Linked DNA regions of Homo sapiens. The protein of the gene in region 1 interacts with the protein of each later gene in a biochemical or structural test. Each region holds a gene or a part of one and is shown on either strand. Other genes may lie near its edges.

Region 1 (5,239 bases):
CCAGCTACTCAGGAGGCTGAAGCAGGAGAATCACTTGAACCCAGAGGTGGAGGTTGCAGTGAACTGAGATCGTGTCACTGCACCCCAGCCTGGACAATAAAAGCAAAACTCCGTCTCAAAAAAAAAAACAAAAAACTTATTCCATCAGATATCTTAAATCATCTCTCTCAAGTTCAAAGTTCGACAAATCTCTGGGGCAGGAGCAAAATGCCGCCAGTCTCTTTGCTTTTGCTACAGTTCTCAACAAGTTCCTCATTTCTATCTGAGACCACCTCAGCCTAGATTTTATTGTCCATATCACTATCAGCATTTTGGGCAAAGCCATTCAATAAGTCTCCAGGAAGTTCCAAACTTTCCCACATTTTCCTGTCTTCTTCTGAGCCCTCCAAACTATTCCAGCCTCTGCTTGTTACCCAGTTTCAAAGTCACTTCCACATTTTCAGGTATCTTTTCAGCAGCACCCCACTCTACTGTATTAGTCCATTTACTGTGTTAGTCTGTTTACTGTGTTAGTCCGTTTTCACGCTGCTAATAAAGACATACTTGAGACCAGGCAATTTACAAAAGAAAGAGGTTTAATGGGCTCGCAGTTCCACGTGGCTTGGGAGGCCTCACAATCATCGTGAAAGGTGAAAGGCACATCTCACATGGCGGCAGCAAAAAAGAATGAAAGCCAAGCAAAAGGGGTTTCCCCTTATAAAACCATCACATCTCATGGACTTATTCACTACCATGAGAACGGTATGAGAGAAACCACCCATGATTCAATTATCTCCCACTGGATCCCTCCCACAACATGAAGGAATTATGGCAGCTACAATTCAAGATGAGATTTGCGTGGGGACACAGGCAAACTATATCACTACTTAACACATTAAACCCAAATTCAACAGCTTAAAACAATACACATTTGCAATCTCACTACTTAACACATTAAACCCAAATTCAACAGCTTAAAACAATACACATTTGCAATCTCACAGTTGCTAAAAATCAGAAATTGAGTGTTGCTTGGCTAAGTCCTCCAGCCCAGGGTCTCTCAAAAGGCTGGAATCGAAGTGTCAGCCAGGGGTGCAGTCATCTCAATGTTCAACAGGGAGAGGATCTGCTTCCAAACTCTCTCGGTGGTCGTTGGCAGGATTAATATCCCTGAGGGGGCTGGGCGCAGTGGCTCACGTCTGTAATCCCAGCACTTTGAGAGGCCAAGGTGGGCGGACCACGTGGTCAGGAGATCAAGACCATCCTGGCTAACGTGGTGAAACCCTGTCGCTACTAAAAATATAAAAAATTAGCTGGGCGTGGTGGCATGTGCCTGCAGTCCCAGCTACTTGGGAGGCTGAGGCAGGAGAATTGCTTGAACCCGGGAGGCGGAGGTTGCAGTGAGCCAAGATCGCACCACTGCTTTCCAGCCTGGGCGGCAGAGTGAGACTTCATCTCAAATAAATAAATAAACAAATGCCTGAGGTTTTTTAGACTGAGAACCTCAGTTCCTTACTGGCTGGAGGTCCCCTTCAGTTCCTTGACAGGTGGGCCTTTTCACAGGTCAGTTCACAACATGACAGCTGACTTCCTCAAGGTGAGTGAGCAACAGAGTGCCAGCAAAAAGGGAAGTCATAGATTTTGTAATCTAATCTGAGAAGTGACATCACACCATTTTTGCCATATTCTAGTAGAAGTGAGCCTCTAGGTCTAGTTCACCCTCAAGAGGAAGGAACTACACAAGAGTGAATACCAAGGTCATTTTAGAAGGCTCCCTATCACAGGTAGTATAATGGAAAAAGCAACTGGAATAAAAACCAGAACAAAAATAGGTTCTAGTAACTATGTGACTAAACTGAGAAGGTAGCCTAAATGACCCCTACGGTCTCTTGGCAGTCTTTTGAAAAAGATTACCAGAGATTAGAGATACTTCATCAAAAGGCCTCATTTCACAAAAGAAAGCTGAGTTCCAGGAAAAGTTAAAACAAACAGGTAGTGAGCCACACTTATTTTGCTCTTATGCCCAGTGCTCTTTCCACTATAGTAAACTGTTTTTGTAATTAATGCTCTAAAACAGTTCTATCTTCTCTTTATGATAGTCTCAAAATCTAATAAATTCAATAGAGAGAATAATAATACAATGCTGACAAAAGCAGCTACAATTGATTAATCTTGTGCATTATCTCTTTTTCTCTCATCAACCCTAAAGCCATCTCTAGATGGTACGTGAAGTTGCAAGTGGAAGTGAGTCATCTGCCCATCCCCAGTCCCAGGTAGCTGGACGTACTAGTAATAAGATTTGCTGGAAATAAATTATAAAAGCAACAAATAAGCAATAGACAAATACATTCACCTTGAACACACAGTCACCCTAAATATGGTAAACAAGATTAAATGTAACCTAAATAAAGTATCTAAAAACTGCAACCAGAAAAGGCAAGGTTTGTTAGTAATGAAATCCTGGAAAATTGTCCCAGAAGTCAACAATGGCAATGTAGTGCAGGCAATATGCAGGGGAGAAGGTACGGTCAGAAGCTAATGACTACAATTGGACTCACAAATACATCCTTACTAATATGAAAGCATCACCTAAGGATGATCGTACAAATTAAATATTTGTGCCACATAAATTCCCTATTTGCTCCCTTATGAAGTCTGAAGCCCTGGAGGGAGGGGACTCCCTTGTCTGAGAATCCCTCCTACTGGCACATGCCCTTTATTACCCATAATAATTTGTAGTGACTCCAAGCTGATTCAAGGAGTGCCATGAAAAACACGCATATGAACACAATTGCTTTGTGTGGGACTTATAAAGCAGGAAGGTATTTACATTAGTCATTGTGTGTGTGTTTGTGTGTGTGTGTGTGTGTGTGTAATGAAATGCAGTATGTACTGGATCCAGAATTTCTATATGAGAAAAGCTTACTTAACTGCAATGAATTGATAGTGGAAGGTGAGGCCCCTCTTAAATCTATCTGCATAACAATCAAGTAAGACTAAAAAAAACAATTATACATATCAAAGAAGGATCACACTGATGAAATTACCCTCACACCCTTCATTAGTATTAGCATATATCTAAATGTGCACTAAATTCACTTCTATAAATTACTTAAAAACAAGAAATGGGCTGGTGCAGTGGCTAATGCCTGTAATCCTGGCACTTTGGGAGGTCGAGGCAGGAGGACCTGAGGCCAGGGGTTGGATACTAGACCGGACAACAAAGGTAGACTCTGTCTCAACAAAAACAGAAAACAAAATAGCTAGGTGTGATGTTGAGCACCTGCAGTCCTATCTACTTGGGAGGTTGCAGCAGGGAAGACAGCTTGACCCCAGGTCAAGGTTACAGTGAGCTATGATTGCACCACTGTACTCCAGCCTGAGTGACAGAGCAAGATCCTGTTTCTAAAAGCAACAACAAGAACAACAACAAATACCTAGAAAGTGTTAGCTAAAAATGTTAACATGGATGGTGGGCTGAATGGTATTAAAGTAAAATTTTGGGCAATACTGAGCAAAAGGCAGGGGGCCAAGAGTAAAAGATGAACTGGGCAGCCCAAAGAGACATTTAAGGAAGAAAGGGCCTCCATCCTGGGAAGAGGTGTCACAGTTGAGCTTCACGGCCCAAGTCAATGGCTATTACGTCCTATATCATGAGTGTACTCAATCACTAGATAAAAATGTCAGAAAACCCAAGATGGAACAGCTCAAAGGACAAAATGCACCTTAAAATATTACAATAACTATATTATATATTTTTACATATTTTTACTCAAAATATCCAGAACTGTCTAGACATTCATCCTTTTCTTTCCTAGCCTTTTAAATAATATCAAAGAAAGACTGTCTCTTCTTTCTTTTCTCACTTCTTACCTGTCTTTTGTTCTTCAGATTTACAGGGTGAGAAGAAAGTGGGAGAAGTAAAAACAATTCAGACAAGAATCAAACTGGCCTCTAATTAGTCTTAAGGTAAAACTGGTAAACCAAATAAAGTATGTTTAGAGATCTGAAATCCAACACCAAAACACTATAACACATGCTGCTTTACAATACTGGCCAGGTGTGGTGGCTTGTGCCTGTAATCCCAGCATTTAGGGAGGCTGGGGAAGGAGGATCACTTGAGCTCAGGAGTTTAAAACCAGCCTGGGCAACATGGCAAAACCCCATCTCCACAAAAAAATATTAAAATTAGCCTGGGCATGTTGGTGTGTGCCTGTAACCCTAGCTACTTGGGAAGCCGAGGTGAGAGGATCACTTCAGCCCAGGAGGCAGAGGCTGCAGTGAACCGAGATCACCCCACTGCACTCCAGCCTGGGTGACAGAGGTACACCTTGTCTCAAAAAAAAAAAAAAAAAAAATACACACACACACACACACACACACACACACACACACACACACACACACATAGATAGATATAGTATTATGGATCTATATTTCTCTAATATAGCCCATCTCAGTTACTGATTTCACATCCAACCAATTGGCAAAAAATTGAACAAACATTTTTCAATAGAGCAGGGGTTAGTACGCTATGGCCCACAACTCAAATCCAGCCAGAGGACTGTGTTAAAAAAAAAAAAAAAAAAAAAAACTAACTGGGAAACCATTAGGTTGAGACAGCTCCAGCACTTTGGGTTCCTATGTAAACAAACCAAAACCCAACTCAATGTAAACAGTAAAACTAAACTTGAGTTTAATCAATCAGAAACCACCAAACAACTTCTAACTAGAGACATTCCACTGTTACCAATCAAATATTTTCTGTTTCCATAAACACCTTATAAAAGTTTTCCCCTCACACCCTCTTGGTGGAGTCTTGAATAACTTGTGGTCTGGTGATACCCAATTTATGAAATTGCTGAATGCTCATATAAACTCTAAAATTTCCATGTGCCTAAAGTTATCTTTTAACAACTGTTTTTGTATAACCCATGAGCTAAGAATTGTTTTTACATATTTAAAGGGTTGGGAACAAAGTAAAGAGGAAAAAAACAGAAAAGAATGTGTAACAGAGACTGTACAGCCTGTACAACCTAAAATACAGGTAGTCCGAGCTTCACACATTACTTGGTTAGCTGAAACTCTACAAAGCGAGGGCTGCCTACACTTATTGTCTGGTCCCTTACAGAAATAGAGGATATCCAAATGCCAGTAAACACATGAATATGTGTTCAATACCATCAGTCATTAGGGAAATTATGGGAAAACCCCAATGTTATGTCACTATATTCCTACTAGAATGGCTAAAATGAAAAAG
Region 2 (5,239 bases), on another chromosome or scaffold:
TGCACTCCAGCCTGGGCGATAGAGCGAGACTCTGTCTCCAAAAAAAAAAAAAAAAAAAAAAAAAAAATTTTTACTTTTGAAATAATTTCAGACTCACAAGACCTTGCAAAAGTGGTACAGAGTTCTTTGTGTACTCTTTATTCAACTTCCCTGACGTTGATATCTTAACCATAGAACATTGTTGAAACCAATAAATTGACATTGAGACAATGTTATTAATTCAAGAAAGATTTTACTTGGATTTTATCAGTTTTACATGCACTCTCTGTGTAGTTCTAACAAATTGTGTCACTTGTGTAGATTAGAATAATCACCACAGTCAGGATGCCAAACTGTTTCATTACCACAAAGAACAGTCACTCTCTCTTCAAATCTAAGCTTGGGAAACACTGATCTGTTCTCTATCACTTAATGTTGCCACTTTGAGAATGTTATATAAATGGAATTATACAGTATGTCACCTTTTGTGATTCGCCTTTTTTCATGCAGCGTAATGCCCTTGAGATTCATCCATGTTGTTGCCTGTGTGAGCAGAGCATTCCTTTTTTTTTTTTTTTTTTTTTTTTTTGAGATGGAGTTTTGCTCTTGTTGCCCAGGCTGGAGTGCAGTGGCACGATCTTGGCTCACCGTAACCTCCGCTTCCTGGGTTTAAGCGATTCTCCTGACTTAGCCTCCTGAGTAGCTGGGATTACAGGCATGTGCCACCATGCCAGGCTAATTTTGTATTTTAAGTAGAGACGGGGTTTCTCCACTTTGGTCAGGCTGGTCTCGAGCTCCTGACCTCAGGTGATCCACCCGCCTTGGCATCCCAAAGTGCTGGGATTATAGGCATGAGCCACCGTGCCTGGCTGTGCTTTCCTTTTTATTGGTAACAAGTATTCCATTGTGTGGATTAACAGTTTATTCACAGGCTAAAGGATATCTGGGTATACTTTGCTTCTACTTTTTTTTTTGAGATGGCATCTTGCTCTGTCGCCCAGGCTGGAGTGCACTGGCGCAATCATGGCTCACTGCACCTGCCACCTCCCAGGTTCAAGCGATTCTCCTGGCTCAGCCTCCCAAGTAGCTGGGACTACAGGCATGTGCCACCACGCCTGGCTAATTTTTGTATTTTTAGTAGAGATGGGGTTTCACCATCTTGGTCAGGCTGGTTACGAACTCCTGGCCTCAAATGATCTGCCTGCCTTAGCCTCCCAAAGTGTTGGGATTACAGGCGTGAGCCACCGTGCCCAGCTTGGTGAGACAGTTTTGGAATGTAATGATACAAGTTTATATCCTTATTCAGTAAGCCTCAACCCTTGAATTTATACTTCCCTGTAGTATAAATTCAAGCTCATAAGCCCATGACTTTGGAATACTTCTCATGGATTACCTAATTTTCATTTCTTATTTTTTTACACATTTGTTTATTCAACAAACATTTTTGCTTACTACCTCTACAGTAGAATACAGTAAATGGACACGAAGCAAATACCTAGTGCTGCAGATAGCTAGTGCCAGGGTGTGTGTTGGATGCTAGAAGAGTAAGATAATTAAAGTAGAAGAGATTGCTTTGTGAAAAGACCATTGCAGGACAGTGTGATGAGAACTGTAAGATTTAGGTACAGTAGTGCTTAGTTTTTTTGTTTTTGTTTTGTTTTGTTTTGTTTTTTCGAGATGGAGTCTTGCTCTGTTGCCCAGGCTGGACTGCAGTGGCCTGGTCTTGGCTCACTGAGACAGGGTTTCGCCATATTGGCCAGGCTGGTCTCAAGCTCCTGACGTCATGATCTACCTGCCTTGGCCTCACAAAGCGTTGGGATTACAGGCTTGAGCCACTGCGCCTGGCCAGATTTCATTTTAATATTGTCATTTTAATGAAATAACTTTTTTTTTTTTTCTTGAGGCAGTCTTGCTCTGTCACCCAGACAGGAATGCAGTGGCATGATCTTGGCTCAGTGTAACCTCTGCCTCCTGGGTTCAGGCGCTCCTCATGCCTCAGCCTCCCAAGTAGCTGGGATTACAGGCATGCGCCACCATGCCCAGCTTATTTTCTTTGTATTTTTAGTAGAGCCTGGTCAGGAACTCCTGGCCTAAGCCTCAAGTGATCTGCCTGCCTCAGCCTTCCAAAATGCTGGGATTACAGTCATGAGCTACTGCCCCTGGCCCAGCTTTTTTTTTTTTTTTTTTTTTTTTTAAAGTAATAAAAGTAATATGGTCATGGTAAAAAATTCAGTACAGAATTCAGTATAATACAGAAGATTTAAGAAGCAAGTGTCAGCTGTGGCTCCACTAATTATTTTTAATTTAAAAATTTTTTAGCAGCTGGGCGTGGTAGCTTACGCCTGTAATCCCAGCGCTTTGGGAGGCCGAGGTGGGCAGATCACAAGGTCAGGAGATCAAGACCATCCTGACCAACATGGCGAAACCCCGTCTCTTCTAAAAATACAAAAATTAGCCAGGCGTGGTGGCATGTGCCTATAATCCCAGCTATGCAGGAGGGTGAGGCGGGAGAATTGCTTGAACCCGGGAGGCAGAGCTTGCAGTGAGCTGAGATGGCGCCACTGCACTCCAGCCTGGGCGACAGAGCGAGACTCCATCTCAAAAAAAAAAAAAAAAAAAATTTTAGCATGTTAATTTAGGGTATCTAATTGTTTTGGTGTGTTATTCTTTTACTTGTGCATGGTTTTGTTCATTTTTCAAAAATTGAGTCCTAGCATACATGTATATGCATGTATGTAAAGTGCATTGATCTTTTAAAGATCAGTGAGGATCACTAGAGGTCAGGAGTTTGAGACCAGCCTGGCCAACATGATGAAACCCCGTCTCTACTAAAAATACAGAAATTAGCTGGGAGTGGTGGCACATGCCTGTAGTCCCAGCTATTCCAGAGTCCGAGGTGGGAGAATTGCTTGAACACGGGAGATAGAGGTTGCTTTGAGCTGAGATTGCACCACTTAGTGCCAGCCTGGGCGACGCAGTGAAACTCCCTCTTAAGGATAAAACATCATTTTTAATTTTAATTTTCTTTTTTAGAGATAGGATCTTGCTTTGTTGCCTAGGCCGCTTTCACCCTCTTGGGTTTGGGTGATACCCCACCTAAGCCTCCCAAGTAGCTGGGACTGCAGGTGCCTACCACCATGCCTGGCAGTGCACTCATATTTTTTTGAGACGGAGTCTTGCTCTTTCGCTAGGCTGGTGTGCAGTGGCGCTATCTCAGCTCACTGCAACCTCCGCTTCCCCGATTCAAGCCATTCTCCTGCCTCAGCCTCCTGAGTAGCTGGGAGTACAGGCTCGTGCCACCACTCCCCAGCTAATTTTTGTATTTTTAGTAGAGACGAGGTTTCACCATGTTGGCCGGGCTGGTCTCGATCTCCTGACCTTGTGATCTGCCCGCCTCGGCTTCCCAAAGTGCTGGGATTACAGGCGTGAGCCACCACGCCTGGCCCAGTGCATTCGTCTTAATTGTACAGTTTGATGATTTTTTTTACATTTATTTATACCCCTGTAACGACCATGTAGATCAGTATATAAAACCCCTTCAATGCTCCATAAGTTTTCTCATGCCTCTCCCGAGTCTATACTCTACCACCTAGGAGCAACAACTTTTTTGATATCTATCATTATTGATTAGTTTTGTCTGTTCTTGAATTTCATATAAATGAAATCATATAGAATATACAGTCATCCCTCAGTACGCTTGGAGGATTGGTTCTGGGACACCCTCAAATAACAAAGTCTGAGGATACTCAAGTCCCTTGTAACCTTCACACATCCTCCTGTATATTTTAAATTATCTCTGGATTACTAATAATATATATACAATGTAAATACCATGTCAATGGTTGTTACATGGTGTTTTTTTAATTTGTAGTTTTTATTTTGTTATTATTTATTTACTTTTGATTGTTTTTGATTCATGATTGGTTGAACCTATGGATGCAGAGTCCACAGTTTCAGAGGGCTGACTTTATATATATATATATATTTTTTTTTAGAGACTGGGTCTTGCTTTGTTGGCTGACAGTGGCACAATCATAGCTCACTGCCACCTCAAATTCCTGGCCTCAAATGATCCTCCTGCCTCAGGCTGCTGAGTAGCTGGGACTACATGTGAGCACCACCATGCCCAGCTGATTTTAAAATTTTTTGTAGAGATGGGATCTCCCTATGTTGCCCAGGCTCAAAGATGTAGTTTTGATTGAACTACTTTACTCTCCCACAAGTGTAAAGACACTTAAGTTTGCTTCACATTTTTGCCCACACTTGGCAGTGTCATTGTAATAAATTTTACCTATTATGGGTGTGTATTGATATTTCATTATGGTTTTCAATTGCATTTTCCTGAGTAATGATGTTAAACATCATTTTTTTTTTTTTTTTGAGACGGAGTCTTTCTCTGTTGCCAGACTGGATTGCAGTGGCATGATCTCGGCTCACTGCAACCTCCACCACCTGAGTACAAGCAATTCTCCTGCCTCAGCCTCCTGAGTAGCTGGGACTACAGGTGTGTGCCACCGTGCCCAGCTAATTTTTGTATTTTTGGTAGAGATGGGGTTTCACCATGTTGGCCAGGATGGTCTTGATCTCTTGACTTCGTGATCTGCCCACCTCGGCCTCCCAAAGTGCTGGGATTACAGGCGTGAGCCACCAGGCCCAGCCAACATCTTTTCATATGTTTCTTGGTCATTTGAGTTTCCTGTTTTGTGAAGCGCCTTTTTAAGTCTTTTGCCCCCTACCCTTTAAAAAAAATATTGTGTCGTAAGTTTTTCTTACTGATTTATAAAAATTTGTAGATTTTCAGATGACTTCTTTTTCGGATGTATGTATAAGTTATGTATCTTTCTAATCATTATGGATATCATTTTGTAATCTAAAAGCAAACTGGAAATCAGGAGGGCATTCTAAACTGGTTCTGGAAGAACCAGTAATTCTCCAAGTAAAATAAGGGGGCAGGGCAAGGACCTTCCATGCCGAAGAAACACTGCAGTTGGTGTCAACATGTGGGGTTTAAAATGGCGTGTAGTCTTGGAATGTCAAGCAGGTTAGTAGGGCTGGAGTGCAGGGTGTGGTAAGCAATAAATAGGGCTCTGAGGAAGTCAAACGAAGGACTGGGGAGCTGTTAAGGGGTACACACTCAGGTTTTTAGAAAGATTCCTTTAGCTATTGTGTGGGGAGTTGCTTAGAGGCCAGGGGCTCCATTGGGAGGCTATTGCATGAGGCTTCAGGAGACTGATGTATATTAAGGGGCCAGAATCCACTA

Evidence for each region. The genes of interacting proteins can lie anywhere in the genome.
Region 2: of the proteins of MIPOL1 (region 1) and SRPK2, one has a biochemical effect on the other in vitro, tested with the Homo sapiens proteins (one large-scale study listed by BioGRID).

Annotation. Positions count from the first base shown.
Region 1 is NC_000014.9:37,199,999-37,205,237, reverse strand, and holds part of MIPOL1 (mirror-image polydactyly gene 1 protein), read right to left. Parts: intron 1-5,239.
Region 2 is NC_000007.14:105,377,882-105,383,120, reverse strand, and holds part of SRPK2 (SRSF protein kinase 2), read left to right. Parts: intron 1-5,239. UniProt on the Homo sapiens protein: Serine/arginine-rich protein-specific kinase which specifically phosphorylates its substrates at serine residues located in regions rich in arginine/serine dipeptides, known as RS domains and is involved in the phosphorylation of SR splicing factors and the regulation of splicing.